Regions from separate parts of the Homo sapiens genome. Here region 2 is linked to region 1. The links come from fine-mapping of genetic effects on gene expression. A gene starts in region 1. The other region holds a variant in brackets. All regions are shown on one strand. Distances are between the middles of the regions. Region 1 holds the start of CITED4 (Cbp/p300 interacting transactivator with Glu/Asp rich carboxy-terminal domain 4). Region 2 has its middle 52 kb from the start of CTPS1.

Region 1 (12,603 bases):
AAAATATGGTATAAAAATACAGTATAGGACAGGCACAGTGGCTCACGCCTGTAATCCTAAGACATTGGGAGGCCAAGGCGGGTGGATCACTTGAGGTCAGGAGTTTGAGACCAGCCTGGCCAACGTGGTGAAACCCCATCTCTACTAAAAATTAAAAAATTAGCCAGGCATGGTGATGCACACCTATAACCCCAGCTACTCCATAGGCTGAGGCAGGAGAATTGCTTGGACCCAGGAGGCGGAGGTTGCAGTGAGCCAAGATTGTGCCACTACACTCCAGCCTGGGCAACAGAGAGAGACTGTGACTCAAAAAAAAAAAAAAAAAAGAAAAAAGAAAAAAAAAGAAACAGTATAAAAGATTTTAAAAAACTGGTACACCTATATAGGGCACTTACCACAAGTGGAGCTTGCAGGACTGGAGGTTGCTCTGGGTAAGTGAGTGAGTGGTGAGTGAATGTGAAGGCCTAGGACATTATTGCACACTACTGTAGACTTTATAAGCTACACTAAATTTATAACAAAGATTTATTTCTTTAATAATAAATTAACCTTAGCTTACTGTAACGTTATGTACTTTTTAAAACTTTTAAACTCTTTTGTAATAGCACTTAGCTTAAAACACAAACACATTGTACAGCCTTTCCTTCTTTCACTTTATTTATTTGTTTGGGACAGAGTCTTGCTCTGTTGCCCAGGCTACAGTGCAGTGGTGCGATCTTGGCTCACTGCAACCTCTGCCTCCTGGGTTCAAGTGATTCTCCTGTCTCAGCCTCCCAAGTAGCTGGGATTATAGACACGCACCAACATGCCTGGCTAATTTTTGTATTTTTAGTAGAGACGGGGTTTCGCCATGTTCGCCGGGCTGGTCTCGAACTCCTCACCTCAGGTGATCCGCCCTCCTGGGCCTCCCAAAGTGCTGGCACTACAGGCATGAGCCACCGTGACTGGCCCTCTTTTTTTTTTTTTTATGACAGGGTCTCACTCTGCCACCTAGGCTGGAGTGCCATGGCACAATCCTGGCTCACTGCAGCTTCAACCTCCTAGGCTCAGGTGATCCTCCCACCTCAGCCTCCCAAGTAGCTGGGACTACAGGTGCATGCCATCATGCCTGACTAATTTTTTTTATTATTGGTAGATACAAGGATCTTGCTATGTTGCCCAGGCTAGTTTCAAACACCTGGGCTCAAGTGATCCTCCTGCCTCAGCGTCTCAAAGTGTTGGGATTACAGGCGTGAGCCGCCACACACAGCCCGTTTTTGTTCTTTATATCCTTATCCTATAAGCTTTTCTCTATTTTCAATATTTTTTTTTTTACTGTTTTTGTTAAAAACTAAGACACAAACACACACATTAGCCTGGGGTCAGGATCATCAATATCACTGTCTTCCACCTCCACACCTTGGCGCACTGGAAGGTTTCAGAGGCAGTAACATGCAGCTGTCATCTCACGTGATAACCGCCTTCTGCAATACCTCCTGAAGGACCTGCCTGAGGCTGCTTTACAGTTAACTTTTTTTTTTAAGTAGAAGGAGTCCACTCTAAAATAACAATAAAACATATCATAAGTACGTAAACCAGTAACATAGTTGTTTATCATCATTATCAAGTGTACTGTACATAACTGTATGTGCTATACTTTTATATGACTGGGGGCGCAGTAGGTTTGTTTACACCAGCATCACCACAAACACGTGAGGAATGTGTTGCGCTATGACGTTACAGTGGCTACAAGGTCACTAGGTGATAGGAATTTGTCAGCTCCATTGTAATCTTATAGGACCATTGTCTTGACCCAAATGTAATGCAGGGCATGACTGTATGGTGGTGGGTGCTAAGGACAGAAGCAAAACAGAGTAAGGGGACAGAATGGATAGAGGGTGGTCAGGGAAGGTCTTGTGGCTGTCTGAAGGAAGGGCATTCCAGGCAGAGGGCACAGCAAGAGTCCTGAGAAGCAAATGTGCTTGGGGCATCCAAGGAGCCTGGAGGAAGCAGTTTATGGAAACTCTAGAAACAAATGAGGTCTGACCATAGCAACACTTTCAGAACAAAGGCCAGATCATGTCACTCCTCTGCCAAAGTCCTTGCAAGGCCTCAATGCAGTTGGCCTCCCTGCTACCCTCCTAGCCCCACTGCACTCTGTCCACACTCCCTTAGGGCTGCGGCTCACCCTTGCCTAAGGCTTCCCCCTAACTCAGAGGTCCTTAATCAGAATCACCCGCAGGGCTTATTAAAACACAGATGCTGAATTCCAGCCCAGTTTCTGATTCAGAAACTGATTTGAGTCTGGTGTACGGTCCTAGAATGTGCATTTCTAATGGGGTCCCTGGTAAGGCTGACACTTCAGGACTTGTTGCTACAGTTTTAGAAGTGCTGCTCCAGCGTTCTCTCTGCTGATACGGCTTTTTTTTTTTTTCTTCTTTTAAAGATAGAGTCTTGCTTTGTTGCCCAGGCTGGAGTGCAGTGGCACCATCTCGGCTCACTGCAACCTCTGCCTCCTGGGTTCTGGCGATTCTCCTGCCTCAGCCTCCTGAGTAGCTGGGACTACAGGTGCGTGCCACCACACCCAGCTAATTTTTGTACTTTTTGTAGAGACGGGGTTTCACCATGTTGGCCAGGCTGATATCAAATTCCTGACCTCAAGTGACCTACCCACCTCAGCCTCCCAAAGTGCTGGGATTACAGGCGTAAGCCACCACGCCCAGCCCGCTTTTGCCCCAGATACCCCACTTAATACTACAACTTGCTCCCCTCCTCCCCTGCACCCCAACCTCCTTCCTACTCTATTTTTCCTTTTTTTTTTTTGTCTTTTCTCTTTTTTTTTTTTTTTTTTTGAGATGGAGTCTCACTCTGTCGCTGGGGCTGGAGTGCAGTGGCGCTATCTAGGCTCACTGCAACCTCCGCCTCCTGGGTTCAAGCAATTCTCCTGCCTCAGCCTCTTGAGTAGCTGAGATTACAGGCGTGTGCTACCACACCCAGCTAATTTTTGTATTTTTAGTCGAGACAGGGTTTCACCATGTTGGCCAGGCTGGTCTCAAACTCCTATATCAGGTGATCTGCCTACCTTGGCCTCCCAAAGTGCTGGGATTACAGGTGTGAGCCACCATGCCCGGCCTAAAGAACTTCTTAAACATTAGTTACACACACATTTTTTTTTAAATGGAAAATCATCTGGTGGTGCAATGGCTCCCAAATGCTGGTGACCTAAGACCAATGATGGCAGAATAATTTTTTGTTTGTTTTGTTTGTTTTTTTTTGTTTTTTGAGAGAGGGTCTCCCTACATCACCCGGGCTGGAGTGCAGTGGTGTGATCATAGCTCACTGTAGCCTCAACTTCCCAGGTTCAAGTGATCCTCCCACCTCAACCTCCCAAGTAGCAAGGACTACAAGTGCACACCACCATGCCAAGTTAATTTTTTATTTTTTCAGAAACAGGGGTCTCAAACTCCTGAGCTCAAGGGATCTACTTACCTCGGCCTCCCAAAGTGCTGGGATTACAAGCGTGAGCCACTCACCTGGCCTGCTTGTTGATTTTTTTGAGACAAGATCTCTGTCGCCCAGGCTGGAGTGCAGTGGTGCCATCATGGCTCACTGCAGCCTCCACCTCCAGGGCTCAGCTAATCCTCCCACCTGAGCCTCCTGGGTAGCTCAGACTACAGATACATGCCACTATGCCCAACTAATTATTTAACTTTTTGTAGAGACACGGTCTCACTATGTTTCCCAGGCTGGTCTTGAGCTCCTGGGCTCAAGCAATCCTCTCACTTTCATCTCCCAAATTGGGCAGATTTTCCGTCTTTATCAAAGCCCCCACTCACCCACCCCTTACCCCCCACATCTCCAGATAAGTGTGAGGCATGGCCAGGTTTAAGAATTTCTGTGAGAAGCCTTACCTGTAGAGAAAGATTCAGGAGAATAAATTCCAGGGTGTAGCTTTTTACACTTTGCAAAAATGTGACCACACCCATGGTCATTTATCACTACCCACAAGCTCTCAGGCTGACCAGGCAAGATCACCGTCTCCCTTTCACAGAGCAGAAAGCTGAGGCCCTGGGGAATCAAGTAATACTCCCCGCTCAACACTCAACAGTCACAGCTGGTTGGTGGTGGAGGTCACACACCTGTGGGTGGCAGAGATATGATTAGAACTTGGGCCTCTGGCTGGGCGCAGTGGCTCATGCCTGTAATCCTAGCACTTTGGAAGCCTGAGGTGAGAGGGTCACTTGAGGCCAGGGATTCGAGATAAGCCTGAGGCCCTCCTCACTCCCCCACGCCGCCCCTCCCCCCCGCTCCCTTCTCTATTTAAAAAAATAAGAAGAAAGAGGGAAGAAAAGACCTTGGGCCCCTGAATTCTCACTCTAGGGCTCTCCCCTCTACATCAACTGGATAAACCCAAGTTCCAGGAAGTCCCAAGGATGCCACAGGTCGGGGGAAGGTCAGAGAAGGGAGAGAGAGTGTCAAATGCGTGGAGGGTAAGGTTCTGGGAGGCTGTCTCCTGGCCACAGGAAAGACTCCAGTTGCCCTAAGGACTTGGAAAACACATGGCATTCACACGCTAACTCTGGCTGCCTGTGACCTCAGGACAGCCACTTTCTCTTTGTGTGCTTCTCCTTATCACTGAAATGGGGCTGATAATCCATGCCCTGCCCCCAACAAAATACTTGTAGAATGTAAAGCACTTTAAAAGTCCAAGTTATTATTGCTGTTATCAAGAGAAGGCCCTTTGGGACAGAACTTAAATAGCCTTGGCCGGGCGCGGTGGCTCACGCCTGTAATTCCAGCACTTTGGGAGGCCGAGGCGGGCGGATCACGAGGTCAGCAGATCGAGACCATCCTGGCTAACACGGTGAAACCCCGTCTCTACTAAAAATACAAAAAAAATTAGCCGGGCGTGGTAGCGGGCGCCTGTAGTCCCAGCTACTCGGGAGACTGAGGCAGGAGAATGGCGTGAACCCGGGAGGCGGAGCTTGCAGTGAGCCAAGACAGCGCCACTGCAGTCCAGCCTGGGCGAAAGAGCGAGACTCCGTCTCAAAAAAAAAAAAAAAAAGAACTTAAATAGCCTTTCTTTCATCTAAGGGACACTTTTGAGCATCTACCACATACCAGGCACTGTGCTAGGCACTGTGCACACATGCCCTCACTTACCCCTCACAAAGGGTCAGTGCTGCTGTTCTTTACCTTTTACAGATGAAGAAACTGAGGCTCAGCTGAGAGTTGCAATTCATTCCATCATTAGTTCATTCACTCAGCTTTTACTAAAAGCCTGCTCTGGGCCAGGCTCTGGGCCAAGTGCTGAGAAGAAGAAGATGAACAAGTCCTTCAGGAGACGTGCCCATAAATTAATAACAACTAAGTACATGCTTCAACAGACAAGGTGCAGTGGGAACTAGAGGGGGAGCAACAGGCTCTCCTGGGGGTTATGGGAATGGACAGCTGACCTCCTGCGGGGACCCTGCACCGCTAAGGTGCATGCGCCCTGTGTAGCTGTGCAGTCTCACTTTGATCAAGGCTTTGCTGTGTATTTCCAGGAAGCCTCTTCCGCCACTGAGCCTCGGTCTCTACCTGGAAAGTTAAAAGGTTGCGTAGGCCTGACATCCTGCAGCTCTTGGGGGGCCTAAAACTCTGGCCCTCCCACCCCACCTTCTGGTCAGTTCAAGCTCTACCCCAGCCAAGTCCGATTCCGAAGCCCTGAGGGCCAGACCGAATCCCTCCGAAAGTGCCAAATACCCCGCCCCAGGGCGGTGCTCAGAGCCTGGGGCGTGGCCGGAGTCCCAAGGGGCGGGGTTCCAGTGGGAGGGGCGGGGCCAAGACCTAGATGCAGGCGTGCGCGGCCCGCCCAGAAGCGTCTCGCCCAGCCAATGAGCGTCCGAGGGCGGGGAAGCCCCGCCTCTGGGTATAAGAATACGCCGAGCCCAGCTACGCGACGCGGAGGTTTCGGAGCACTACAGGTTGCGGGCCTTTGTGACCCCAGGCTGCGGCCGCAAGGTGCGCAGTAGTGGGCTGGGCCGGGGCACCAGTCGGGTTTGGTTTTGCTCCGCCCGGCCGAGCTGCAGGGACCGCACGGTGCCCGGGTCTCCCGCCGCAGAGCAGCCGCTGGCCCGGGCCGGGGGAGCCGGCGCTGACCACCGCGCGCTGTCCCCGCAGGCAGCCGGCCTGCCGCCATGGCCGACCACCTGATGCTCGCCGAGGGCTACCGCCTGGTGCAGAGGCCGCCGTCCGCCGCGGCCGCCCATGGCCCTCATGCGCTCCGGACTCTGCCGCCGTACGCGGGCCCGGGCCTGGACAGTGGGCTGAGGCCGCGGGGGGCTCCGCTGGGGCCGCCGCCGCCCCGCCAACCCGGGGCCCTGGCGTACGGGGCCTTCGGGCCGCCGTCCTCCTTCCAGCCCTTTCCGGCCGTGCCTCCGCCGGCCGCGGGCATCGCGCACCTGCAGCCTGTGGCGACGCCGTACCCCGGCCGCGCGGCCGCGCCCCCCAACGCTCCGGGAGGCCCCCCGGGCCCGCAGCCGGCGCCAAGCGCCGCAGCCCCGCCGCCGCCCGCGCACGCCCTGGGCGGCATGGACGCCGAACTCATCGACGAGGAGGCGCTGACGTCGCTGGAGCTGGAGCTCGGGCTGCACCGCGTGCGCGAGCTGCCCGAGCTCTTCCTGGGCCAGAGCGAGTTCGACTGCTTCTCGGACTTGGGGTCCGCGCCGCCCGCCGGCTCCGTGAGCTGCTGAGGGCGGCCGGCGCCCGCCCGGCGTGCCGGAGAGGAGAAAGGGCCCGACTGCCCGCCGGACCCTGCACCCAGCGACTGGGCCCCGCGCGCGCCCTCCGCGAGGGTGGAGGCGGCGGCTGTGTGCGCAGGGCCCGGCACCGGACTGGGACCCTGGCGTCCCTCCAGGCCTTGCCTCCTGCGGGAGGACAGTTTGGCTTCACTTCTCTGACCCCAGCCTCGGCCGTAAAGTGAAAGAGACCGGACCAGCTTCAGCTTTCGGACTCTGGTTCTTGGATCGTGTCCTCTCCCCCTCGCCGCCCTCTTCCCCCAATCTGAGCCATTGCAGGCCTCTGCCTGCTGCCCCCTCTCTCCTCGGGATCGGGTCCCCAGAGCCACCATCTCCTGAGCCTCCCACCCCGCTGCCTGGGCCCTGTGGTTGCTGGGCCTCCCACCTCAAGGAGGGGAAGGTTGTACAGCCCGAACCCGTGGAGCAATGCCCTGTCTGGCCTCCAAAACCAAAATAAAACTGGGTCACTTTACAGTCTTGCCGTTTTCATTTCCTTATCACCCCGAGCCCTGACTATATTTAGCTTCCAAAGTCCCAAGGTTGCTGAAGACACTGGATGGCATGGGGGCCACAGTCCCCAGCAGTGCCCAGGAGAGGAAACCGACAGTTTCTTTCAAAAATATCTCGTGGGTTGTGCAATTGTTATGTCACAACCTGGAGGGCAGAGGCTGCCACTGGGTGGTGGGGTAACCCACTGGGCTTCCCAGCTCCTAGGGTAGGGTGGGGGGAGCTTGGTGCTCTGCCAGAGAGGAGCTGGGTGGCACCGAGTTCAGACAGCCTAGCTTTGGACCCTGACTCTCTCCTTTGCCCAAGACACCATCCGTTCTGATTTTTGAGGCGGTTTCCCAGAGGGAGATGGTCCCCGTCTCCTCAGGTAGTTACGCTGCCTTTAGCACAGTGCCAAATACCTGGGCAGTTCTCAGTAAGTGACGGCAATTATTATTCTACAAATTGGTGCTGATTTTATTCCAGGCCCTGTGTCAACCTGGTGCATGTTCTCATGGAATCACAGCCCAGGTGGGAGGAGGTGGGTGATAGGCCTGAAAACAAACTAATCTTGCTGCAAGGAAGACTGTGATGAGTTCTAGAAAACAGTGCTAAGCAGCACTTTGGGAGGCCGAGACGGGCAGATCACGAGGTCAACAGATCGAGACCATCCTGGCTAATATGGTGAAACCCCGTCTCTACTAAAAATATAAAAATTAGCTGGGCATGGTGGTGCGCGCCTATAGTCCCAGCTACTCGGGAGGCTGAGGCAGGAGAATCGCTTGAACCCAGGAGGCAGAAGTTGCAGTGAGCCGAGATCATGCCACTGCACTCCAGCCTGGCAACAGAGCGAGACTCCTCAAGAAAAAAGAAAATAGTTCTGGGGGGGATTGTACAGCCAGGACAATAGACCGGCCAAGCGGGCACACCCAGAGAAGGGAGCAGTTTCAGCTATTAATAGTTGAGGTTGGGGTCAGTTCAGGCTTCAGGGAAGCGGTGACATTTGACGTGATGAACAGAGCCTTGAGTGATGAATATGTTTTTAGGAGAGGAGCCTGTTTCAAGGCAGGAAGGCACACAAGTACGATGAATGTTTGGGGAAGGTGTGGGGTGTCTAGAAGGTACAAGAAAGGTCGAATGGCTTTACGACAACTTCGTGAGGCAAGCACAGTCCTCATTCTACACATGAGGGTTGTGGAGTGTGCCCAGGCCTGGCAGGATTTGGCCTCAGAGTCCTGAGCACCAGCGTGAGTTCCTGGCCACCCTCTGCAGTTCACTCTGGAAAAATCCCTAGGTGCTTCTGAGATGTGGGAGAAAAGCTGGGAAAGAGATTGAAGTCAGGGAGGAGGCCGGGTCAGAGACGCTGCGGTGGTGGGGCATTCTCTAGGAGAGCATGGATTCCAGGGACACTGGAGGGGAACACCAGGCTGAGACCTTCTGTCCCCAGCAGCTGGGCTTGACTCTCAAGCCAGGCTTTTTTGTGGATGTGACCCTCCACCAACCTGTGAGTTCTCCCAGGACCTACTGTGCTCTGAAGCTACCAGGATGGAATGTGGCTGGTGACAGGAGGTGTTTGGCAAATGAATAAAGGTCTCCCTAAGATCATGGGATTTCTGGGACAGGATGAAGAGAGAAAGGAAGAGAGCCTTCTGGGAAGGGACTGGCCTGAGCTCTGGGCTCAGAGGGGCTGGCATTTGCCCACCCCACCGCCCCGCTGCTTTGCCCAGAACCCCAGGCCAGAGACAGAAACCACAGGGCTGAATTAGTACAGGAGGGTTTGACCCTGAGCTGAACACTTCCCTGATTCTCTTCTCTCTCCCCTCAGTTTCCACACCAGTAAAATGGGGCTAATATCCCTGCCCTGCTACATTACAAAGCAATAACCCTCACAATTAGTAAGGAACAAATTCAGAGATGGGTTGATAAGCAGTTGGCAAACTCTGAAGTGCTCTCCATATGGAAGGGATTACAACGAAAACCCCAACACCTGCCTCTTTCCAGAGTTAAGGGGGAAGCGGAGGAGAGAGTCCAGCTGCTGAGCTCTTCCCTCCTGCATCCCTCCAAAAGGGACTGCTGACAAGTTGGACAGCAGACAGATGGACAGGGGAGAAGATGAGGCTGGGGCATCCCACAGCCTGGATCCCCAAATCCCTGATACTGTTTGGAGGCTTCTGACCCTACCATCCCCTACCAGGGGAAGAGAGAGTACGTGTAGAGACAGTGAGGAGAGCAATGGGCTTGTCGTCTGACAGCCTCAGGGTCCAGTTCAGAAGCAACTCTTACTAGCTGCCTGACCTCAAGGAAGCCACCACACCTCCCGCATCTTGGCTCTCCTAAGATAATCACACGAGCTTCCGTGGTGCCAACAGGGTGTCGCTCATGTCTCCCCCAGGGCTGCCTCCTAAAGCAACCTGTTGCCAAAGGGTGCTGTGGATTTCTCTCTTATACCTAGGCTGGATCTTGGGGGTCAGAAATCAGGCTTCCTCAGGGTTGAGAACTGAGTCATGACACAAGTCATTTTCCCATCCTTTTGTTGTTGTTGTTTTGTTTTGTTTTCCTATTCATATGAAAGTTTCCAGGCTGATGTTCTTTATTTTGAATTATCTTTTGGTTGACTGGATTTTATCAACAAGCTGTCATTTGTGTGTGTGGTTTTTTTTCCTTCAAGAAAAGTATAATTTCCCTTGAACTCATCTCTACAATGGGAATGCTAATAGTACCACCCTGCAGAACTGCTGTGGAGATTAAACAAGTTAGTGCAGGTAAAGTATTGAGAGCAGTGTGGTTTGTAGTAAGTGCTGTTATCCCTGATAACAGCACTTTTTGGAGATGCCTTTGTATTAGAATATTAGAAAGGCTGTGTTTTAACCAGCTAGAAAGGGGTTACTCCAACAAGCAACACTGTTACAGGTGGGGTTCCCTGGGAAGCAGACTCTGAGATGACATTCAGCTAGCAAGAGGTGTATTAGGGAGTGCCTTCAGGATCAGCAGCTGCAGAAGGGAGGGGACAGAAGGAGCTAAGAAGCTACAAAGCAGGCCCAGCAGGAGCCTCAGCCAGCCCCGCTGGGAGCTCTGGAGCTAGAAGGGCCCTTCAGAGTTGGCCTGAGTTGGACCATTTTAATCCTTTATACTCCTGCCTCCATCAGTCACTGGATGTGAGCCACCCAGAGAAGTGGTGTGACTGTGGGCAAGGCAGCTGTCCCCAGCTAAGCTCATCCCTGGAGGAGCTGCCAGGGTACGGCTGTCTACCAACAGCAGCACTCCTGGGGGCTAGAGCAATGATTCCTTTTCTTCTCTTTTCTTTTGTTCTTTTTTTTTTTTTTTTTTTTGAGACAGAGTCTCACTCTGTCGCCCAGGCTGGAGTGCAGTGGCGCGATCTCTGCTTACTGCAACCTCTGCCTTCCGGGTTCAAGTGATTCTCTTGCCTCAGCCTCCTGCATAGCTGGGGTTACAGGTATGTGCCACCGGACCCAGCTAACTTTTGTATTTTTAGTAGAGATGGGGTTTCACCATGTTGTCCAGTCTGGTCTCCAACTTCTGGCCTCAAGTGATCTGCCTGCCTTGGCCTCCCAACGTGCTGGGATTACAGGATGCACCACCGTGCCCAGACTAGGGCAATGATTTCATAGAAGGGGGCTCTGGGCGGCACATCACAGTGTTCACCACAAGCACTGGGGTGGGGACTCTGGTTCCCAACAGCAAGGGACTCTTTAAATTTATGCCCTGGGTATCTCTTTTGCCTCACCTTAGTCTCAGACCTGACCAGCACCTTCCCCATTACAGAACAAAAACAACAAAATGTAAATGTATCAACCTTACAGGTTTGATGTGATGAGACTCTATACAAAATACCCCACACATGGTAGATTCTCAATAACTGAGCGCTGCCATCACTATCATAATTGTCATTGTCATCATCATCGTCATTGTCATCATCATTATCATCATCGTCATTGTCATCATCATCGTCATCACTCCAGGTCAGATAAGTGTTCAACAGTCATTTATCGAATAAATTAATGATCAGTCTGATCCTAGCCTTTTCCCAGGCAGCTTAAGTGGTTTAGCTGATTACTAAGTAATCCTCTTGAATTCCTTAATCCATCGTGGCCTAACTCTTCATGCCACCCTGTTGTTAGAAGTGCTGGGACAAGATTAGTGCCAACTATAAGACCAAATAAGTGCTTACTGAGTGGCTGCTGCGTGCAGGCATGGTGGGAACTGACGGGGAGTGCCCAGTGGCACTCTTTCTTTTCCAGTCTCTCTTTAATCACCGCCCAACCCTGTAAATAGCACTGCTAGGTAGTTTATCCCCATTCCAGAGGTCAGAAAACTGGGGCACTCAGAGAATTACTCCAAGTCACACCTCAGTAAGAGGTGAGGTGAGCATGTCCACCCCACCATATCCAGGGCCTGTCCCCTTCCCAGGCTGGATCTGGCCAAGGACCTGAGCCTGGGTGGGATAAGAGCAGAGTCCCAGAGCTGATCTGCCACTCTGAGGCTGTGAATTGCAGAGGAAGTTACTGGGCCTCCTTAGGCTTTGATTCCTTCTTCCATCCAATGGAGAGAATAATTCCAACATCTGAAGAATGTGTGTGCAAAGATTCACATGAGGCTGGGTTTCTGAGAGCACACTGCAAGCAGTGCAGTGCTGCCTGGCCAAAGTGGGTTTGTGGCTGAACAACCATGGCCCTTATCCTGTAGCTGGTCTGGGAAGAGGACACCTGCATATACTTTGGGGCTTGAGATCTGGCCAGCCTGGAGCATGCAACGTAGAGTCTCATGTTGAGGGCTCTAAGGAGGCACTGCTGAGCAGCTCAGCGTCTGGACGGCCCTGAGGGCTGGTGCTGATAAAAGAGTGGGATGTGGGTCAGCTTGGGGAGGACACACAGGTTGGGGGACTGGGCATGAGTAAAGGCCCAGGGCCCAAAGTGTGCCCTGATGGATAGAAGAAATAAAGGAAGCTACTCTGAGTGCAGTCCCCTCGTCTGTCAAATAGAGACACGATAAGCTTCTTGTGAGAATGAACCAAGGTGATGTTAAGTGCCTGACCCGTGAGCTGCTCAGGTGGAGCTGTGGCTGGGAAATATGACCACAGGGACGAGAAGGACAGAGCCCTGCCCCACCCAGCCTCCAAGTGCCTTCCCACCCTCAACTCCAGCCACCCCAGGCTCCTCATGCACGATGTTCCTCGTGCCGCCAAGCCTCTGTTCCTTTGCCTGTGCCATTTCCTCAGCCTGAAATGCCCTCCATAGGGCCTTTTCCACATCCAAAGGCCTATTACCTTGTGTGTCAGAGTCGCTGAGGGGTCTTTCTCCACCAGACTGTAAGGCTCACCATCGCCCCCTGTGTGGCTCAG
Region 2 (12,603 bases), 65 kb before region 1:
TCCCTGCCCTTTTGCCACTCTGGCCTTCTCTGAGTTCTTCCAAAATGCCAAATTATTTCCTGGCTCAGTATCTTTGCACACTCTGTTCCCTCTGCATGGAATGCCCTTCCATCCCCTCTTGGCCTGGCAACTGATGCTTATCCTCAGTCTTAGTTTAAATGGCATATCCTCCAAGAAGCTTTCCTTGAACCGTGGGACAAGCCTGGGCCATCTGTTTTATTCTCCCATTGTGCACTGTACTTTTCCTTCTCAACATTTATCAAAAACATAAATAGGAAAGCATAAATAGGGCCAGGCACAGTGACTGATGCCTGCAATCCTAGCACTTGGGGAGGCCTTGGCAGGAGGATTACTTGAAGCCAGGAGTTCGAGACCAGCCTGAGCAACACAGTAAGACTCAGTCACTACCCAAATTTTGAAAAACTTAGCCAGGCATGATGGCTCAAACCTGTAGTCACAGATACTTGGGAGGCTGAGGCAGGAGAATGGCTTGAGCCCAGGAGATTGAAGCTGCAGCGAGCTATGATTGCACCATTGCACTCCAGCCTGGGCTACAAAGCCAGACCTTGTCTCGAATAAATAAATAAATAAATAAATAGTTACTAGTATAATTGGTCATTCAACGTCTGTCTTTCCTATTAAACTAAACTCTGTGAGGCAAAGCTGTCTATTACAATAACAATCGCTGAACACATCTATAGCTCTTCCTATGTGTTTGGGTCTGTTCTAAGCACTTTTTATGTATCATCTTACTGAATCCTCACAGTAACCCTTCAAGACAAATACTTTTTCTTTCCCTGTTTCATGAGTGAGGAGACTGAAGCACAAAGAGGTCAAGTAACTTGTTCAGGGATGCATAGCTGGTAAGTAGTGGAACCAGGATTCAGAAGCAAGCCGTGTCTCCCAGAATCCTAGCTTTTCCTACTTCCCTTATTGCCTTCCAGGTTTGTTGTGTTTCCCATTATGCCCCCAACATCCAGCACAGGACACATGATAGGTGTTCAATAAATATGGTGGAATGTATGTCTAAGCATGCATTTACTGAGAACTTACTAAGTGCAAAGCACTGTGGAGAAACCAAAAATATGGACCTTACCCTTAGCGACCTTTAACTAAAATCACGAGGAAAACAGATTTTTATTTATTGTTTATTTTTTACCTGACTAAGGAATACAGAAAAGGTTCTTAGAGGAAATGTTTTTTGGTGGTCCCCTGGGAACAGATAGATAGGACTCAAATGGATCTCGGGTGGGGGCAGGGGAGCAAGGGAGGCCAGATGCTGGGGAGGCGAGAGTGAGGGCTGGCAGCCCTGCAGGAATGCTCACTGGGAGGACTGGAAGAGCAAGGGTGGGGCAGAGGACACAGACTGAGGGAGCCCAGGGGAGGGAGTCAGCTCTACCAACTGGAGGAGGGGTCGGCCAGTCTGGGCCTCCTGTGATGAGTAAACAGGCGTTGGGGAGGAAGGGCTTTGTGGAAAGAAAGACCCACCTGTGCAGAGCATGCAGGCAGGAAATTGCAAAGGGTGTTCAGGAAACAAACGCATGTCCTGTGGGATATTAATGGGATTCTACAGTCAAACTCACTTGGGAAATTCTGCACTGAACAAGGTTAAACAAATGTCTTTCCTGCAATGTTCCTCAGAACCCTTAATATGTTAATGTGCATTGGGTCTACAAGGCAGGGGTATATGAGTGACATTTCCAAGAAAGGCTTATTAACTTGACAGCACATTAGTTAGAAAAGGGTGGCAAAAAAGCTGGCGGGTCAAACAGCTTGGGGCGGGTGAGGAGGGTCTGGGATGCCAAGCCAGGGAATATTCACATTAGCTTAGAGAGCACTGGAAGAATAAAAGATTTTTTAAGCAGGGTGGTGACGTAAGCCCGGCTGAGAGCTAGCAAGCTGCCTCCAAAGTCAGTGTGGGGATAGATGTGAGGAAGGAAAGAGATTAACGTGTTGATATAGTTTGGATCTGTGTCCCCACCCAAATCTCACATTCAATGTAATCCCCAGTTTTGGAAGTGGAGCCTGGTGGGAGGTGATTAGATCATGGGGGTAGGTTTCTCATGAATGGTTTAGCACCATTCCCTTGGTGCTGTCCTCTCAATAGTGAGTGAATTCTCCCGAGGTCTGGTCATTTTAAAGTGTGTGGCATCTCCCCCTGACCTCTTCCTCCTGCTTCGGTCATGTGACATGCCTGCTCCCCCTTTGCCTTCCGCCATAATTGTAAGTTTCCTGAGGCCTCCCCAGAAGCCGAGCAAATGCCAGCATCATGCTTACTGTACAACTTACAGAACTGTGAGCCAATTAAACCTCTTTTCTTTGTAAATTACCCGGTCTCGGGTACTTCTTTATAGCAATGCAAGAATGCATAATACATGTGTATTGTTGACTTACTCTGTTCAGCCACTGTGCTAGCACTTCAAGTATATAAGTGCATTTAATCTTCACAACTCTGCAAGGGTAAATGCTATTGTCCCTACTTTAAAAGTTGAGAAAACTGGCCAGGTGTGATGGCTCATGCCTGTAATCCCAACACTTTGGGAGGCCGAGGTGGGCAGATCACAGGAGCTCAGGAGTTCGAGACCAGCCTGGCCAACATGGTGAAACCCCACCTCTACTAAAATTACAAAAATTAGCCGGGTGTGGTGGTGGGGACCTGTAATCCCAGCTACTCAGGAGGCTGAGGCCGGAGAAGTGAACCTGGGAGGTGGAAGCTGCAGTGAGCTGAGATTGCGTCACTACACTCCAGCCTCAGCAACAGACCGAGACTCCGTCTCAAAAAAAACAAAAAAAAATTTGAGAAAACTGAGGCTCTGAGAGGCTGTGGGGCCACCTGCCCACCACTTATTGAAATATGTGTGTTAATTCACTGTGCCTCAGCATCTGTCTACTTGTGGAAATGAGCCAGCTCCTGAATCTAGGTCAGCCAGGGAGCAAAAGTGTGGGCCCGGCTGGGGAAGGAGCTCTGGGTGTGGGAAGAAGAGCTGGCTTCTGAGACCCTGAGCACTGTGGCCCTCTCCAGGACCTAAACCCTGGAACTAGCTGGGGCCTGAGGGAGCCGGGCATGTAGAGCTCCCCAGAGAGGCTGGAGAATTCACCCATGGATGACACAGGCATCCTCACCCCAACTCCCCATGAGAACAGAATCGGAGGCCCCATGGGCTGGCAGAAGGGACCTTGGCCTTGAAGAACACTTTCTTTGGTTCTCTCCCCTGCAATGCACTGCCTGAGAACTGACGGATGGCCATGGTTCCAGCCAGCTCTGCCACCAACCTGCCAGGTGATTACCTCATGTGTCAACAACATGATCCCTTTTGTTCCTCCCGGCTCTGAATGCCCTCTTCAGAACTCCTGTTCACACAGGTGCCATGTTGTGGAATCCTGGCTCTGGTCCTTCTTTCAGAAATTTTGGGAACTGGTTGTCATGTATCTGACAGATCAGCCTCATCTCATCTCACCTCTCACAACAACTCCATGGTGCCTCTGTTCAATGAGTATTTACCAACTCCCCACCCTTTGCCAAGTGCTGTCCTGAGAGCTGTGCTCACAGAGGTCCATCTTATGAAGCAGATATTGTTATGAACCCCATTTTTCTGATATGTTTGTTTATTTTAGAGACGAGGGGCCTCGCTATCTTGTCCAGGCGCGTCTCAAACTCCTGGCCTCAAGCCATCCTGCTCTCCAGCCTCCCAAGTAGCTGGAATTACAGGTATGAGCCATTGTGCCCAGCTACCCAGTTTTCCAGTATGGAACCTTGCCCAAAGTCTTGCCCTGGGTAAGACTTGAAATCAGGTCCGTCTACACTAACATCCCAGCTCCTGACCACCCAGTGTCACTGCCACCCATGTAAGCCCGGGCTCGGGACTGGAGCCCATGCCTGCTGGAGCAGGGATGGTGAGAGAGAAGGGGGCATGTTATGACCTCACTGTGCCCTGGGGTCATTCTTGGTTCTGCTACCTCCTAGCTGGGTCACATGGGGCAAATCATCTCACCTCCCTAAGTCTCAGTTTTCTCATCTGTGAAATAGCCCTACAGTATTTACCCCAAATATTTGTTGGGAGGATAAAATGACATCTTGAATATCAAGCCTCTTAGTACAGTCAATATTAGTTTCTCCATTTAAAAAATTTAATTTTCCCTAAAATAACCTGCCCCTTCTCATGCTCATTTCCAAAGGCTTGCAATGAGTGATCCAGAAACAAATGAATAAATAAAGGGATTTCCCAAATTCCCTGAACTCTGGTGTTGGAGTTGTGCAGCCTCATGTATCTTTATATGGCCTGCATGACATCAATGATGACTCACATTTCTTGATCATGTAATATGCTCTAGAAACTTTCCTGGGTGTTTTACACACACAGCTGTTACAGACCAGAGCTAGTTGTCTTTTGTTGTTGTTGTTGTTTTGAGACAGGGTCTTGCTCTGTCACCCAGGCTGGAGTGCAGTGGTGCCATCTTGGCTCACTGCAGCCTCGACTTCCTGGGCTCAAGTGATCCTCCCATTTCAGCCTCCTGAGTAGCTGGGACCACAGGCGCATGCCACCATGTCTGGCTAATTTTTTAATTTTTTGTAGAGATGGGGGTCTCACTATGTTGCCCAGGCTGGTCTCAAACTCCTAGGCTCAAGCAATCCTCCCAACTCAGCCTCCCAAAGAGCTGGGATTATAGCCGTGAGCCACTGAGCCCAACCAGAGCCAGGATTTGAACCCACAAAGTCTGGCTCCATGGCCTGTGCTCTTAACCACTCTGCTACTTTGTTCGGGAGGTCCAATGTAAACTTCTGTGTATTAAATTGTGAGATCCCAGAGGTCACAAACCATGCCTTATCTGGGATCCAGCATAGGCCTGGCCCTGAATGAGTTTCAGAAGATTCTTTCATTCATTCACTCACATTCACTCAACCAGTATCTCTGGAGGACCTTTGCAGGTCAGACTCTGTTCTAGGAGCTGGGGATACAGCAAGGAAGAAGGTAGAAAAGACCCCTGTTCCCATGGCAACTACTTCCAGTAGAATCCAGGGTTGCATGGCATTGAGTGACTGGGTGGCTGCTCTTATTGGGTGGTCAGGATGGCCCCTCCAAGGAAGGGATGTTTAGCTAGGACCTCAGTGATAACAGGGAACCAGCCATCTGAAAATCAGAGGGAAGAGCATCGAGATAGAGGGAACAGCAAGTGCAAAGACCCTGGGGTGAGAAAAAACTGGGCATATTTGAGAAACAGAAAGAAGCCCATTGTGGAGTGTTAGTTGGGGAAGGGAGACAGCAAGGCAGGGGCCACATCATGGGGACTTCATGAGCCAGAGGAAGGAGTTTTATTATGTTGTTCAAAGTGCAATAGGAAGCCGTTGGAAGGTTTTAAACAGGAAAATGACATAATCTGATTTTTAAAAAATTAATAGACTTTATTTTTAGAGTAGTTTCAGGTTTATAGAAAAATTGAGCGGAAAGTCCAGAGTTCCCTCTCACCCTCTACTGTGCATACATGCACACATATCACAATTTCCCTTAGTATTAGCATCCTCCATTAGAGGGGTACATTTGTTACAGTTGATGACCCAATACATTATTATTAACTAAAGTCCACAGTTTACATTAGAATTTGCTCTGTATTGAACATGAGTTTTGAATAATGTATGACCTGTGTCTACTATTATAGTAGCATACAGATTAGTCACACTGTCCTAAAAACCCCCTGTTTTCCACTGATTCCTCCCTCCTCCCAAGGCCTTGGCAACTACTTTTTTTTTTTTTTTTTTTTTTTTTGAGTTGAGTCTTCCTCTGTGGCCCAGGCTGAAGTGCAGTGGTGCGATCTCAGCTCACTGCAACCTCTGCTTCCCGGGTCCAAGCGATTGTCGTGCCTCAGCCTCTCAAGTAGCTAGGATTACAGACACGTGCCACCATGCTTGGCTAATTTTTGTATTTTTGGTAGAGATGAGGTTTCACTATGTTGGCCAGGCTGGTCTCGAACTCCTGACCTCAGGTGATCTGCCTGCCTCAGCCTCCAAAAGTGCTAGGATTACAGGTATGAGCCACCGCACCTGGCCACAACCACTGATTGTTATACTGTCTCCATAGTTTTTGCCTTTTCCGAAATATCATAGATTTGGAATAACACAGTATGTAGCCTTTTCAGACTGGCTTCCTCCACTTAATCTGATTTTTTTTTTTTTTTTTTTTGAGACAGCATCTTACTCTATTGCCCAGGCTGGAGTGCAGTGATGCAATCATGGCTCACTGAAGCCTCAACCACCCGGCCTCAAGCAGTCCTCCCACCTCAGCCTTCTGAGTAGCTGGGACTACAGGCACATGCCACCATGCCTGGCTAATTTTTAAATATTTTGTAGAGATGGGGTCTCCCTAAGTTACCTAGGCCAGTCTTGAACTCCTGGGCTCAAACAACCCTGCCTCCATCTCCCAAAGTGCTGGGAGCACTTTGGGAGTGAGCCACCGCACCCAGCTTGATCTGATTTTTTAAAAGATCAAATTGGCTGTATCGTAGGAACAGATTGGAAGGGGACAAAAATAACAAAAGGAAGACCAGTTAGGAGACGAAGCAGTCATCCAGAGGCTCGATGAAGTGGTGGGCCAAGCTGGTGGGGAGAAGTGTGTGGACCCCAGGTGCACAGTGGAGACCCAACTTTTGGGAGCTGCTCATTGAGTGAGTGCAGGGGAAGGTCAAGGATAGGAATGATTGATGATTACATCGCCAGGGTTAAACCAGGCCTGCACAGAGTGGGGTTTTAAAGTGTTCATAGATATTGCTGTGGTTTTTAATCCCCTTAAATACTCTTGTTGTTCTCTTAGAAATTGAAGAATCAGTTCCAGAGAGATCTCCTGGAGGGCCTAGGATCACAGAGCAAAGCAGAAACCACAGCTGTCTCGGAGGACGAAACTCCAGCTCTTCACCCAGAGATAGTCGTGGGCTGGTGGCTTCAGGGCCCACTAGGGCCTTTGTTATGAGTTTTCTCTTCCCAGCGGTCCTTTTATTGCATAATCAATAAACCACTGACAGAAATAAAAGGCTTCCAGATATATACGCTGCTGATTCCCTGCCTGGAAAACCTTCCCCTCTGCCCTCCTTAAAACCTCATGGCTTCTTAT[T/C]GCACATTGCACCCGGGGGGGGGATATCCACTTAGAATTGAATCTCAGTGAAACTGCTTGTTAACTTACCCTGACCTCTGAGTTAGTTCAGCTTATTTTGGTCTCAAGTAACTACCTTAAGGCAAAAACAAACAAACAAACAAACAAACCTGGGAGGGAGTGGTGGGATGGATATCTTGGGAGCTATGGAGGCACCACACAGACTGAAGGAAGAGGAGTTGAATCAAGGATCGTCTGAAGAACAGGTCTAGCATGTCTCCAGGGATCACTGCAGTAGAAGCCTGCTGCCTTCAGGGGACAAGTCTACCATGACCCCAGATGCTGCTTCGCTCCACTCCATTCAAACTCCCAGCAGGCCTTGGATGATTCCAGCTTGGTCAGGAGTGCCCCTCACCCACTGCTGAGATCAGTTAAGTCTTGGTGGGAGCACAGAACCACATGGTACAAACGGAGTGGGATGGGATCGTTCCAGGCAAAATCTTCATGGGAGATGAAGCTGTTCATGGCCCCCCAGCCAGTGTTGGTCATTCTGTCCCTGGTAACCCTATAGCTCAATCACAGCACTTCACAGATTGTCTTATAATTATTTGCCCCAGCTGGAATGCAGTGGTGCAATCATAGCTCACTTCACCCTCTATCTCCCCAGCTCAGGCCATTCTCGTCCCTTAGCCTCTGGAGTAGCTGGGATTACAGCACACACCACCATCCCCAGCTAATTAAAAAAATTTTTTTTCCTGTTGCCCAGGCTTGAACTCCTGGGCTCAAGTGATCCTCCTGCCTCAACTTCCCAAAGCTCTGAGATTACAGGTATGAGCCACTGCACCCAGCCAATTTCTTGACAGTGTATGTCACTTTCACTGGGCACTGGGTTCTTCCAGGATTGTGGCTTTGACTTACTTAATCTGTTATGCTGCAGGGGTGCCCCTGTTGCTGTTCTCCCTTCTTCTGCAGTAATTGGGACCTGTTTTTAGCAAGGCTAATGGCCTCCCAAAGTCCTGACGTGTCTTAGTCTAGCTTGCAGCTAGGGGTGTCCAAGCAACAAGGTTCTGGCCAATGCATAAGGAGGGAGGTGGTGTGAGCAACTTCAGTGAGACCTTTCCTGGAAGAAGCATGCCCTCCGCTTCTCCTCCTTACCCTGCTGGCTGGAACATAGACATGGTGGTGTACCCCATAGGACCATGTGGAAAAAGGTAACTCCCTAGAAATGCCAGAGCCCCCCCAGAGAGCGAGCCATGGTCCCTGACACCCTGAAGCTGCCACATCGGCTTTGAACTGCTTCCCCGCTGAATGTTCTGAGAGGCACTAAAACCTCTTTTCTCGTTAAGTCTTCCTGCAGCCTAATATAATCCATACTAATAGCCATGCCTAACATGCTGACCGACCTTAGTACGTGCTTAATAAATGATGGTTGAGTTATTAAATCAATGACAAAGAGAGAAATACTCAATGCCAGCATTTATCACATTGACACTGCATATTCTTTCTAGCTCCTCTCTACATACAGTCGATATTTTAACAGAGGTATAATTAGAGCAGAAATAGAATTTTATATCCAGCATTTCCCCAGTAATAGTAATTACGTAATAAACATTTTCCATGTCAAGTCCTTGTATCATCATTCTAAATGAATGTGTCATTTTCTTTTCTTTCTTTTTTTTTTTTTTTGAGATGGAGTCTCACTCTATTGCCTAGGCTGGAATGCAGTGGCGCGACCTCAGTTCACTGCAACCTCCACCTCCTGGGTTCAAGCGATTCTCCTGCCTCAGCCTCCTGAGTAGCTGGGATTACAGGCATGCACCACCACACCCGGCTAAGTTTTGCATTTTTAGTAGAGATGGGGTTTCGCCATGTTGGCCAAGCTGGTCTTGAACTCCTGACCTCATGTGATCCGCCCGCCTCAGCCTCCCAAAGTGCTGGGATTACAGGTGTGAGCCACTGATCAACCATAATTTACGTAACCACCCCGTTATTCTTCGGTATATACATTTTCCCCATTTTTCCTAATTATAGAGAATGCTACAAGAAAGTTACTTATGACTTTATGACTATTCTTTTGCCTTTTCCTTTTGACAAGTCCTTTGAGAATGGGATTGTTGCCTTTTCTAATATTTTAGAACTCTTTCTACCTTCACCGGCCACTCCTGTTTCATAATTGCCAATTAAATTGTGAACAATGGTCATGACGGGAATAACAATTACAGTAACAACAGCTGCTGGTTACTGATCACTGACTATGTAACCATATCATGCTAGGCACTTTTCATCTTTTTGTTTCACATATCCGCATATAGCTATACATACTTTCTCTCTCTCTCTCTCTCTCACACACACACACACAAGCATGGGAAGTGGTAGTTAAAAGTGCGAATTCCAAGGTCAGACTAAATTCAAATCTTAGTAAAACAGCTTCTTCACTATGAGACCCTGCATAAATTACTTAACCTCTCTGTGCCTCCATTTCCTCATCTATAAAATGAAGATAGTAATACTTTCTTTATAGGGTAGCTATGAGGACTAAATGAGATAACACAATAATAGCTGGCATTTCTTGAACACCTACTAGGTGCCAAGCACTATGCTAAATAAAGGCTTTATGTTAATTCACTTATTTCTTGCCAGATTATAGGAGCTAAGTATTTTCAGCCTCATTTTGCAGACAAGGCACCTGAAGCTCAGAAGGTAAAGACATACCTGCCCAACCTGCAGGGAGCTGAGCAATTCTCACCTGGGTCACACTGACCTCACAGTCCCAGGCTCCTCCCAAAAGGATTCTTCTCTTTAAGCAGTCTCAAACGCTCAATTTCTCCAGCATAATCTCTCCTTCCGCCCCCATTCCCATCCCACAAGGTGCAGCCTTCTTTCAGGTGTCCCCTCCCCGCCATCACTATTGCAGCATAGAATGCCACAGAAGCTCAGTTAGGAACAATCCCCATTTATCAAGTGCTTCCTCTGGGCCAGACCCTGTGCTTGGTGCTTTATATCATTATCTCATTTAATCCTCAGACAGTCCTGGAACATAAGCACCATTACCCCCATGTTACAAGTGAGGAAACCCAGGCCCAGAATGCTGGAGCAAACTGCCCAGCGTTGCAGGGTCATTGCATTCAGGAGCTGAGACTCCCAGTCAGGCTGAGAAATGCAAGTCTAGCATCTTGCCACCCTCACCCACAGCTGCCTGGGATGGTGGTTCCCAGGGGATGGGGAAGATCGTGTTGTGATGGTTCCAGATGGCCTGATGGTTCCCCCTGCCTGAGGGCAGCCATGCAGAGAGTGCCAGCACAGCGTCCACTAGAATCTCCCTGCCTCTCAAGGCCCAAGGCCCTAGGCCCAAGGCAGGGCCGAGATCCAAGGGAGAGCGGTCGGACGGGCTTTCTGTGCCGCCCCTGAAATAGCCAGCTCAGCTCCCCAGCTCCAGCTCTGCAACTGCAGGCGGATCCCGGAATAGCTCTTTCCTCCTGCAAGGTGACCTAGTTAGCAGGTTCCTCTTGTCATGTGAGGTTGGCTGAGCAAGACATTTACCTACCTCTGTCTACCCAGAAAAGCCTGATCCGACACTTTCCTCTCCTCCTTCCCCCGATGCTGTTCCTGATTCTCCCACGGTTCACTCATTCTAGAAGTCCAGGGAATGGATGATAATGCACTAAGCGTGGTGCTTCAGGGCCTCAAAGCATGTTCACAGACATTATCATACTTCCTTCTTACACCAGGCTTGGAGGGCGAATCTATTATCAACCCATTTCACAGCTGAGGAAATAAAGGTGCAGAGAGGGTAGGCAACATGAGCAAGGACACACGGCTGGGAGGAGGCAAAGCCAGGATCTGGACCCAGGTTCCTGAAACTCAGACCAGTGTCCCTGCAGTGCTTTGAGTTTCCCTGGTTTTATGCACCTCTCTGAGGAGCCCCAGTCACTAAGCCTTCCTCACCTATCCACTGCCTGTGTTGGACCTCCTGAACACCTATCTGGTTGTAGAACTGGGTGCAGAGGTTGAGATCAAGGACTTGGAGGTCCACCAGCCTCAGGGTGGAGCTGGGATTTGAGTTTCAGCATTTATCAGCTCTGTGGCCTCAGGCAAGTTGCTTTGCCTGCCTGAGACTCAGTTTCTATATCTGTAAAATGGGCATAATAATCATACCTGCATCCTAGGGTTTCTATAAGGATTAAATAAGATAGGGTACATAAAGTGCCCAGCAGCTTCCTTTCATTTTGCATATTTTTGATAAAATAGCTATTGTTGTCCAGGCACAGCGGTACATGCAAGTAATCCCAGCACTCTGGGAGGCCCAAGCAGGCAGAGGGTTTGAGCCCAGGAGTTTGAGATCAGCCTGGGCAACATGGCGAAACCCCATCTCAGCAAAAAATACAAAAATTAGCTGGGTGTGGTGGTGCACACCTGTAGTGCCAGCTACTCGGGAGGCTAAGTTGGGAGGATCACTTGAGCCTGGGAGATTGAGGCTGCAGTGAGCAGAGATCACTTCACAGCAATCCAGCCTGGGTGACAGAGTGAGTTCTGTCTCAAAACAAACAAACAAACAACAACAACAAAAAAACTATTGTTGTTATTATTATTGACATCCTGAATTTAACCCAAAAAGGAGAAGCTTAAGATGGGCTAGTGCCAATGAAGAGTTGCTGTAGTAAAGGTTGTTATGACTATTCCCATGCCATCATGCACAGGCCTGGAAGAAAGAGTCATATTGACAATAACACAACTCCAGCATATGGCAGTTTCTTCTGAAGTGTTGGCCCCTTGTTCCACTGGATGGCTGCTGGCTCCCTGTAGGAACCCACTGCAGGAGAGGAGAGAGGTGTGGGCAGCCTTGGCTGTCACCCTAGGGGTGCTTATTCACTCTGCAAGTGTCACATCCCACTGGCAGGGGGCATAGAGAAGTGCAGGGTGCCTACTCCGGTGATCCCTGGGTGCTGTGGGTCGTGCAGAAGTGAAGATGCGGAAGGAGATTAGGGGCAGGTCTGGGGACCCCTGAAGACCATGATCAAATTATGTAAAGGCAGAAGTGGCTGAGGGCTAGTGAGAACGAAGCTGGACTTGGGGGATCAGATGCTGCATTCAAATCCTTCCTCCACCACTCCTTATATGTGAGCCCACAGATAAGTTGCTTAACTGCTCCAAGCCTCAGTTTACCCATCTGTAAAAACTGGGCATAATTTGAACCTCATGGGAAGGTGGCGAGGCTTGGATGAGTTACCTACGTGTTGCACCAGCACAGTGATAGGCATGACATGGGGGCAGAGTACATGTTTGAGAATTTGAATTTGAAGTCTAGCCAAGCCCCAAGACCCAAGGTACCATCTTAGGAATTTGGAAGAAGAGATGAATGTGGTCTGGAGTAAACAAAGAAGGCTCCAGAATGATAGCATGACTGGCCTTGGGTCCTGAAATCTAAGTATAACAAGGATGCTGGAGAAGCTTGGGGAGGCCATTCAGACAAGAGGTCCAGTGGGAGGAATGGGCATGGCACACAGACAGGACAGTCGCTTTCCGT

The links.
Region 2: its variant is fine-mapped to the expression of CITED4 in subcutaneous fat (TwinsUK, PIP 0.95).

The regions. Positions count from the first base shown.
Region 1 is chr1:40,855,683-40,868,285 of GRCh38, reverse strand. CITED4 (Cbp/p300 interacting transactivator with Glu/Asp rich carboxy-terminal domain 4) reads left to right here and starts at 5,923. Exons shown (of 1, transcript NM_133467.3): 1 at 5,923-7,232. The coding sequence starts at 6,159. The coding sequence ends at 6,713. It overlaps LOC124904157 (a long non-coding RNA gene), which reads right to left and starts at 5,902. Exons shown (of 3, transcript XR_007066025.1): 1 at 5,176-5,902; 2 at 3,891-4,118; 3 at 1,355-1,538. LOC105378676 (a long non-coding RNA gene) reads left to right here and starts at 10,792. Exons shown (of 3, transcript XR_947239.2): 1 at 10,792-11,224. RefSeq lists enhancers at 2,014-2,563, 2,564-3,113, 5,537-5,596 and silencers at 5,697-5,896, 6,057-6,136.
Region 2 is chr1:40,921,060-40,933,662 of GRCh38, reverse strand. No RefSeq gene overlaps it. Among named protein-coding and RNA genes, the nearest start is that of CTPS1, 52 kb to the left of the region's middle. The variant T/C (reference allele first, on the strand shown) is at 7,101.